Linked DNA regions of Homo sapiens: region 1 is linked to region 2. A link means that fine-mapping ties the variant in region 2 to the expression of a gene that starts in the linked region. Tissue or cell type: subcutaneous fat. Region 2 holds a variant in brackets; the other region holds the start of a gene. All regions are shown on one strand. Distances are from middle to middle.

Region 1 (5,152 bases), 140 kb after region 2:
ATGCCTTAATAATGATCTTTTGAAAACCACAAATGTATTGCTGGGTATTTTAGGAAGGATGATTTAGGGGGAGTGTAGGACTGGATTCTGACATAGCCTAACAACCTTACTGAATCCTGAAAATAGAGATGCCATTAGCAGAGAATCTCCACAGCACCCTTTCCTAGCAATCTGCTTCAGCTCTTCAGTGAATCGCCGCAAAGAGGTCCCACATTGAAATCGTCACATGCAGAACTCAGAAGAAACCCACTACCCACTCTATTCTTGAGGCCTGGCTGCCAAAGAGCCACCAGAGAACAACAGCACTCAGCCACTCTGTCCCCATATTTCAATTAGTAGGCAAGCGATTCTAAAACTGTACACTATCAGGATCGTAGAATACTTGGGCAAGACAGAGCTTCGTAGACTGCACAGTCCAATTTCTTTCTTACTTCTTTACCACCTAAGTTAAAATATTTGTCTCTCTCTCCCTACACACACACACACACACACACAGAGAGAGAGAGAGAGAGAGAGAGAGAGAGAGAGAGAAACCGATGAGACAGGAAGGGTGAGAGATTTTCCTAAGGCCAGGCTGCAAGTTAGATCAGAGCTGGAATTAGAACCCAAATCTCATACCTAGAGCCAGCCAACTGCTATTCTAGACTCAGGACAAATCTGCTTCAGTGTCATGAATTCTACATATGCTAAATTGGGCATTCATATTTTATCTGAGGTTGCCTGCTATTGACTCCTAAAGGAACCCAACAAAACCACCTTTCTGAGCCTTTAATCACTCTGCCAGTTCCAAGCTGAAAACTTAAGGCAAGTTACTTAACATCTCTGGGCTCTTTCCTCATCTAAAATTCATGGGTTGAACTGCAGACCTCGGAGGAACTTTCCAGTAATAAAAACTCTGCTTTTCATCTACTGTTTTATGGTTCATTCTTGATGTTTGCAATTTTCACTAGGTGGCAGGATTCCACCATCACATTACGAAAGGATTTACATATGATGCCTGGAAGCAAAAAGGAGTTTCAAAGAAACTTCTTTCTTCGCAAAGGACACTAAAAAAAAAAAAACGTAAAAGGCAGAGGGAAACAATAACTACAAAAAAAAAAGAGTAAAAGCCAGAGGGAAACAAACAATAACTACAAAGGCAATGGCCCATGTATTTCATAAAGATCTGTACCCATTTTTAATATAAGCATAAAATAGGAAATTAATCCCATGCTCTTGCATGTTCTTCAATACAATACTATAATTTGCAATTTGATGATAAGGTTAGGTAAAAGTTTGCTTAGTTTTGTGCATTTTAAGTTTTATTTTAGCTGAATGCCAATTAGAGAATACCAGATCCCCTTGGGCTAACCAGTAATGCAGGCAATCTAATGGCAATAAAAACTTAAAGCATTTTAAATAGTTATTAATGTGTTACAAAGTTACCTCTTAGTTACTCATAATATATTTAGATTATCTTCTAAGTTTATTTTTGAGATCTTGACCAAAAGAGTACATAAGAAGGAATACAGCATTTATTGGATTTTTGCATTTATTTGTCAAATCCTTAAAAGGGTATTCTTTTAAATAGATTTTATGACACTTCATCATACTTTTAAAATTATTGCCCAACATTGGCCTTTTCATGAATGCTGCATAATAAATGTCACTACCAACACTCTATATGAGTCCCCAAAATAGCCAAGCAAAGTCGTTATGCTGAACTGAGCGTTTCTCCTCTGCCAGAGCCAAGTGAAGTGACATCAAACAATAACTCAACTGAACATTCTAAAATTGCCTGGAAGAAACGCTCCCCAGTGTCTTGCTTGTTGTCAGAAGAACATGGTTAACTAGGCCTTTTCCTCAGCTGATAAATATGGCATTCTTCCCACCCACCCCTCATCGATTGCAAGTTAATTACATAGGATGTGGCCCATTACTCTCCAAAGTTTCTTAGAAAATAACTCACTTCCTAGAAAAATCTTAATATCCGCAGCAAAATCAAATAATACTTAGACTTCTGCATCAGAACCTGAAAACACCATCAGCAGGTTGCTTTCATTCCTTCCTTCCTAGCACAGAGCCGTGACACTTCGTTCAGGTCCTACCTTTGCAACTTGTAAGGGCTGCTTCTGCTCCTTGCCACCTTGCAATCTGAACCCCCAGGGCGCCCCTCCAGTCATGGAAATGCAGATAAAATCCCCTGTGCCCATGTTTTCCTTTTAGTTGGGCAGCATGAAGAGCTTGACGAGACAGACGAAGCTTGGGTGCGGTAGAGGATGCGCACTCAGCTTCGGGCGCCTGCCGAGGACGCAAGACTGGGTAATGCAGAGCGTCCGCCGCTGCTGCAGCCGCTGCCCCAGCCGCCGCCCCAGCCGCCTGCTGCGAATTTGTGCGGCTAATGGGCTCATTCTCAAGGAGGCAGAGGCGCTCGCAGCATCCAGGACACAGCCCACTCTTGCGTCACTCTCCTTTGCTCGGCCCACCTTCGAGGAAAGGAAAGCAGCTTCACACACAGGAGAATGTCCTCACGTGGGGCGAGATAAGGGAAAGGAGGACGGAAGGGAGAGCCAAAGTTATCTTGCACTAACAGATTAAATCCAAGCAGTTAATGGTATAAGTATGATTGAAAAACTTACATTTAATAATTCTGTAAATAGTAAAGGACACATGAAGGTTTAATCTCCACGCCATGAATGACGTCCTAAAATAGGAGCGTTGGGAATTCAACTACTAGAGGATTAGATTCTCTCAAATAAATGTTTTGAGACTTGCCACATTTATGAATGGAATAGACAAAAAAGAGTTAAAATGAGTTAAATTACTACTTTTCTGTCTGCATTCTGCTGAATTATTCCTATAAGAGGAAACAAAAGAAAGCACAAACTTTTTGTTAATAAACCTCCAGCTCTGAAAAGTACCTTTCTGAACCATATATTTAGAGAAAGGGGAAGAGAAGAGACAGAAAGGGAGAGAGAAAGAGAGAAAATGAATATGAATTTTTCTCCTGGAAACTACATTCTTATAATTACATCTATTGCATAGTTTTGGGTATGTTAAATTTTAACGTGTTTTGTTTTCTTTCTACCTGCTGATCTTCTTAAACCCAAACCCAACAGTTAGTCAACTGCATAAAATGTACAATGTCACCTACAGGTTTCTTATTTTTATAGTTTGTCATCCCATGTCATGAATCTGGGTGGTCCAATATAAAAGCAGATTTTGTATATTCCAAATATTTAAATGTTTTAAATCTGAATACAATCTGCCAAAAATGTACAAAAAGGACATTTTAATTTTCCTATAATACTTTTGTTTTCCATAACATTCATCCACATAAAAACATACTAAATAAGGAAGAGCCTGGGAAAGTTTGTTTGTGTTACTTGTGGTACCAAACAAAATTTCCAGACACGCTGCCTGTTTCAGCACTAAGAAGCACTATATACAGTAAGTCCTCACTTAAAACGTCACAGATAGGTTCATGGAAACTGTGACTTTAAAACCAATTTTACCATCGACTAATTGATAAAAACAAGGTTAAGTGACTACAGTCTATTTCTGGTCACAAAGACATCACCAAACTTTTAAATAAGATTAAAACACTTCTAATATTAAACATGGAAATAAATGTCAGCTACACATGCATTTAAGAAAGATTAATAAAAACAAGATAATCATGGACCCAATTTTTGGTGAATCAGTGAGTGAGGGCAGCTGTAGTGGTGGTGGATTCAATCAAGGAATAAATGTTTGCAAAAGGAAAATTATAAGGAGTACCTCCTGTCACAATGCAGTTCAAAACCACCACAAATATAGCAGGCTCACTGAGAAATTTCATACAGCATCATCTATTGCTGTGCATTTGTGTGATTAACATATATTTTATGAATTTTTTTTGAAAATAATTTGCATCCATACATTCATTCCTCCTCCAACCCACTTATTCCCATTCAGGATCTCCAGTGGCTTGAGCCTCTCCCTGCAGCTTAGGGCGCAAGGCAGGAATCAGCCCTGGACAGCCCTGACCATCCCATCAGAGGGTGCACACACACACACACACACACACACACACACACACACTCACTCAGATGGGGACCATTTAGACATGCCAGTTCATCTCATGAGCACAGCTTTGGGATGTGGCAGGAAACCAGAGGACCTGGAGAAAACCTATACAGACATGGGGAGAACTTTCAAACTCCATACAAACAGTGGCCCCAGCTGGAAATACATTTTTTTTTCTCATCAATGTTGTCATGAAACAATGTTGAATAAAATGGCATTATTCAAGGACCTGTGGTACAATGAACATTTTACACAGCCCATGCTCCCCAGAAGCCAAAGGCATCAAGTGATTTTATTTGTGACTCATCACTGGAGTGAGGACAATGAAATCAGAGATTGTGGCACTGGAAGAGACCCTTTGAAGGTCATGAGGGCCAGATACTCATCCCAAGTTTGATTCTTTTCAGAAACACGAATTGACTTTCCCAGTCTTTCCTTTAAACAATAGTTACAAGAGACATCATAAAATATGAGCTTTGACACTAATTACAATAGCAAAGACTTGGAACCAACCCAAATGTCCATCAGTGATAGACTGGATAAAGAAAATATGGCACATATACACCATGGAATACTATGCAGCCATAAAAAAAGAATGTGTTAATGTCCTTTGCAGGGGACATGGATGAAGCTGGAAGCCATCATTCTCAGCAAACTAGCACAGGAACAGTAAACCAAACACCACATGTTCTCACTCATAAGTGGGAGTTGAACAATGAGAACACATAGACACAGGGAGGGAAACATCACACACTGAGGCCTGTCGGAGGGTGGGGTACAAAGGGAGGGAGAGCATTACGACACATAACGCATGCGGGGCTTAAAACCTAGATGACGGGTTGATAGGTGCAGCAAACAACCATGGCACATGTATACCTATGTAACAAACCTGCATGTTCTGCACATGTATCCCAGAACTTAAAGTAAAAATTTTTAAAAAATGAGCTCTGAGAACAAAGAAAAAAAACACTTTCATATTTGTTCTTTTTACTTTTTCATGTCCCTTCTGCTCCTCAATCCACTCAAGTCTAGCTTCAAATTAGTGATGGTGTCCTCCTTAAATCATTTCTCCCTTAGGCTTCTTGGGCCCAGCAAGCTCTAGGCT
Region 2 (5,152 bases):
AACAAAATGCCATACAAAGCACTGAATTTAAATATATTTTATGTTTGGAGACATTTAAATGCCTCCACATGGCCCTGGAGACTGACTTCTGTGTCTAGAAGGTAGATGAAACACTTTGCAGTCAAATGAAGACTTACACAACGGAGAGGATCATGTAACTGCTCAGTATACACATGTCCTTGTCTGTCAAACTCACTTCTGCAAGCATCATCAAGCTGCACAATGATTTTTTTTCAAAACAAGGATCTGCTTTTGATATCAATGGTAGAGCTTTTATTTTAAAGACACCTCTCAGTAGCAGACTCAACAGTTTTTGACATTTAAACTGAGTCCACATGACTTCAAGTGCTTTCTTATGCTATTTTAACATGAACTATTTCAACTGTCTGAAACAAAATGAACAGGCACATTGACAATATTATTTTCTTTAACAGTTCCTGTGCCTTTGGGGATAAAAAGAAATTCATGAAAAATGTTTAAATCTATATGAAGTTCGGACTTATTGCTTCCTATTTAGAAATTGGTATTCTCCACAATTTCACATTTGTGATTTTGTGCATTAATTAAATATTTCTTTAAGCCAATGAGAAACATAAGAAAAATCTTGCTGAAAAACTCATGCAAGCAAAGAAGCAGCAAAATGCCCCCAACTCCCAAGCCCCTTCTGAAAGCCCAGGCAGAACTTACGTGCATGCCGCGCTCGGTGCTTGTGAGGTCTGCTGTGATCTTTTTCCGAGCGTGGATCTTCTCCCTGCTCTGTGCCTTCTGATGAGACGGCAAAGGATACCAGAGAAGGAGGTGCTTCTGACTGCCCTCCTTCCACTGGAGAATCCACACACTCCTTTCCTGCCTGAAGCCTGCACCCTTCTGTCTTCTGCCTGTCAGAGCAGTCGAGGATCACTTCCACCCGGGGCAGTCCCGCATCTCCTGCTTCACTTTCCTGGATCACTCTCAACTCTCTGCCACTGGAGATCTGGATTATCTTGCTGGACCTCAGGAAAGGGTCTGCTTTCTCATTAGTAGGGATCGAATTTATGTGGACAATCCTGTCATGTGACAAGTTAGGGTCTGGGTCAGGAGACTTAGATTTTTCAGCTCCCGGGAGAGCCACTAAAGGGCCACTAGCGCCCTTATGTCTCTCCTGTGAAAGGGACAGTTGCAGCTCAACCACAGGCCCAGGCTGTACCGCTTCTACCTTCTCCCTTAAGATCAGCTCTTCTGCCACGCGTCCTCTTTGGGAGTCAGGCATTTGGGGAGCCCTTTGGTAGCTCGGGCCTGTTTCTTCTTTCAAGCTGCCTGCACAGTCGGGACCACTTCTTTGGTTCTCAGCTAGGGGAACTTCAGTCTTGACAGGGGCGAGGAAGAATTCTGTGCACTGGGTCTTTGTGGCCGGTCGAATCTGCAGGGTGGTACTTTCCACATAACCCCCATGTGTGAGATGCTCGAGGTTTTTGTTTTCATTTTCAGATATCAAAGCCTCACTTATTCCACTGGATGGTCTGCACACAGAAAAATCATTCCAGACACTTAAATCAGACTATGTTACATCTGCCAAAGAACTTCCTGACACTTTTGTGATGTCTAATATGTGATATAGTCAAAATATTTTCTTCTAAATGTCAGTTGCAACATATTTGAAAACAGAAGGTGGCAACATGTTCATATTATTACTTAAAGAGATACCAAATAAACTTTTTTAAAAGCACAAAGAAACTCTTACACAAGATTATGAAACCTGAATCCATCCTAAATTCAGCTTTTATTTTTAAAAAACTACATGGATCCCGTTTATCTGTAAGTACTTGGAATCTGGGTATCTCTTATAATGAGTTTGCTAGAATGTGACAAAGCATTTCAATGTCTTATTGACTAAGTTTTGGTCTAGACATTATGAAGTCACATAAACATATCCAGCACCTTCAGATCAATCTTAACTTACAGATAACTCAACTAGTCCTTTTAGAGGCTGTGCTTTCTTGAAAGGAATGAAATAGAAGCTGTTTTTTAAGCCCCAGTGAGCATGTGTTTCGTAATAAGTGGACCCAGCCCAGTACTCTTGCGTAAAGAGAAATCCTTTCCGTGCTGCAATGAATCATTAAGTCATGGAGTATTTATAATCTGAGATGTCTCCCTTTCTTCTATTTG[G/A]ATCTGTTTCTTGGAGCATTTTCTTTTTAGGATATCTGAAGTCAAACTGTTCCTTTATCTCTCAGCTAAGGAGCCTAGAGCTGTACACCACAGCTCTTTGATTTTGATCTTCCCAGTTGTCTGTGCAAATTTGGGTTTCTGAGAAGAAGCAATGTCAGTTTAAGAGTTAAATAACTTCTTTCTGAAACTCTAATTTAAACTGTAAATGTTTTTAGAGGTATTATTCACAGAACAGCTGTAGGAAATGCCTTCATTTTTTATATTTGTATTTTTTTTAATTTTGGAAGCAGCATAATTATCTTTGCCCCTTTCCTCCTTCCTTAAAAGACAGTTATGACTCATGCAGGCACGTCAGCTGAAGGGCGTGAGCTTCTACTTGGATTCTACTCAAAGGAATTTACCTTAGAATTTATGTGGTAGTGCAATTTCCGACCAATGCTCAAAATACTTACTCCTACCTTTGCTTTCAACTGCATTTGGCAAAACAAAACTAAACAAAATGAAAACAAACTAACAGTTAAACAAAATGCACCTTTCTCTATACGCAAGTAATTGGAAAAGCTTCCCTGTAATACAGTATTTATACAACATTATAATATCGTATTAAAAAAGCATGATGTTAGCAAATTAGATCATTATTATGTAGAAAATGTTAAATACATTGTTAAACTGAATTTGAGGGTACCAAAAGGTCAGAGAGTTTTAATTTAGGAAGGCCTTGGGATGGAAGTAGATTAAATCACTTTGAATAACGTTAGCAATCAATTGTGAAGCTGAGAAGAGAATAGTTTCAATTCATGCCAGCCTTGTAGACCAATACAGACAAATGGCCAGATAAATATTAACATTTATCAGCAGCTGAAGTAAAATAAATAGACATGAGTAAATATCATAAAAGCATGAGCGAATAAAGCTTTATGCCTTAAAACATTCATTTCCCATCAGTCTACATAGGTATTCATCAAGTCCACAATTTATGTGTCACAATTATAGAATTTTTAAAATCTTATTTTAAGAACATTCAAGATAATAGAGATGGAATGTTAAAGGAGTTATTTTAAAATAGTCTTACTGAGCTATCTCTGGGCAATAGTTCAGGAAAAGTAAAAACACTTGTCCTCTACTGATAGATGACAGTGATATGAGTGACAGAAATATTTATTGCAGGAAACAATATTCAGATATTTAAAATAGTGGTAGTGGTGGTGATGATAATAATTGCTTTTGACTTGATTTTCAATTGAGATTCCACTTTGAATCCTACCAATTAGTTACTTACTTTGTAATTTTTTTTATTTTATAAATTTAATTATGTATTAGTAAATTATGTATTTTATAAACTTATTTTCTCTTCATAACATGAAGGAAGGATTCTAAGGCCTTAAACACTGAGTTTGATGGGTAAATATTTAGATTATAAGAATAATGCTAGATTTCCATTGTTGTCTCAAGATTTTGGCCATAGTGAGTTCATTTTCATCCCGGAACAGAATCATACTGAATGATTAGCAGAGGGGTAACTGTGCGTAGTGTTTCTGCAGAGTTGAGGAAAAACCTGGAGGACCTTGAGGTTCATCTTGAGATGTCCTCTGACATCTTCCTAAAAGCTGCTCTCCAGGAAGCCAAAGCTTTCCTTTCTGGATTCATTATCATGCAATAGCCAGAGCTTCCGTTGCAAAATCAGTATGGATTGTACTGTGATTTGTACACCATAAAAATGTCAATGCTGTAGTTTTCCTTGTTATTGTCCTCATTGTTTTCTTTTGTTTTTTACATTTAAAGGTTTCTTTTATATTGTTAAACAACTATGTGGGGATGGTGGTATTTGAAGAGATTGAATTCCCAAATGACCTGTGTTGGTCGTGCAAAAACCTTATTCTAATCATCTGCTTTTGTCCATCCTCAAATATTGGTTTTACTGGAGAAATCCGGCTGCTTGTAAGTTTTTGTTGTTGTTTCTCTTTTCTGTCTCTTAAGCATCCTTTTAATGAAAAATTGTACAGTTTAATGGTCTAATATTTAAACATTTTTAATTCATCTGTGCATCTGATAATTACAATTGAGTGATTCTGATCCATCACAAAATCTTGACCTATCAAAGAAATATTAAGTTATGCTCAATATACTGAGCTTTCTAAGGAAGGAGCCTAAAATACCTAAGATTTTCAACAAAGTGCTTGAAACAAGCATTTTCAACTTAATTCTCAATTAACCAGAAAGTTTGGTTGACTAGAATTGACTATTTTTCAAACACAGTGGTGTTTCTGTTTAACTATACCTAACCTTCTACAAAGCACCCCTAATTTCTCCATAAATGACAAGTTATATATGTAGTAAAAGCTATAATCATTCCCATGTAGCTTCAAGAGAAAATACATATTCCAGCAAATCTGTTGTACCTTTTGATGAGCATTTGGAGAGAGTCTGTTATGCTTTCCATGAGCTTGATGACTTCAGGGTAGGTGAGATCTGCACAAGGGTTGCCATTGATGGAAACCACTTCATCTCCCTCACAGAGCCCAGACCCAGAGGCTTTGCTCTGATTTCGAATCTGAGTGGAGTAAAAAAAGAAGACATAGTAGAATGATATAATTTGTAAAAAGCAAGCCACCATCTCTGAGAAACAAATCTGTCAACAGTAACACCAGCCCTGAATTTTAATTCACCTGTTAACCTGTAAGACCATTTAAATACTTCTTACCACCTTATGAACACACACACAGCCACACACTTTATCATGTACCATAATATGAACATTTAATTCATAGCATTGTAAGTAAACAGGAAAAAAGAAAGTAAATAAATCAATGTAAAGGTACCAGACAGAATTAAAGAAATAAAAAATAGAGAAGAGTGAAAAAAGATGTTAAAGGCTTACATTGATGGCATTAAAAATAATTATTCAGGCCAGGCGTGGTGGCTTATGCCTGTAATCCCAGCACTTTGGGAGGCCAAGGCGGGTGGATCACGAGGTCAGGAGTTCGAGACCAGCCTGGCCAACATGGTG

Direction of the effects. Positions count from the first base shown, and alleles are read on the strand shown. Sizes are in standard deviations (SD) of each study's normalised expression.
As copies of G replace A in region 2, the expression in subcutaneous fat of the gene that starts at base 2,375 in region 1 goes up (small effect, 0.17 SD a copy in GTEx).

The links. PIP is the estimated chance that this variant, and not a neighbour inherited with it, causes the effect.
Region 1: it holds the start of SYNPO2, and the variant in region 2 is fine-mapped to the expression of SYNPO2 in subcutaneous fat (GTEx, PIP above 0.99).

The regions. Positions count from the first base shown.
Region 1 is chr4:118,886,077-118,891,228 of GRCh38, reverse strand. SYNPO2 (synaptopodin 2) reads right to left here and starts at 2,375. Exons shown (of 5, transcript NM_133477.3): 1 at 2,088-2,375. The coding sequence starts at 2,192.
Region 2 is chr4:119,022,974-119,028,125 of GRCh38, reverse strand. It overlaps SYNPO2 (synaptopodin 2), which reads right to left. Exons shown (of 5, transcript NM_133477.3): 2 at 4,545-4,696; 3 at 688-1,499. Among named protein-coding and RNA genes, the nearest start is that of SYNPO2-AS1, 41 kb to the right of the region's middle. The variant G/A (reference allele first, on the strand shown) is at 2,146.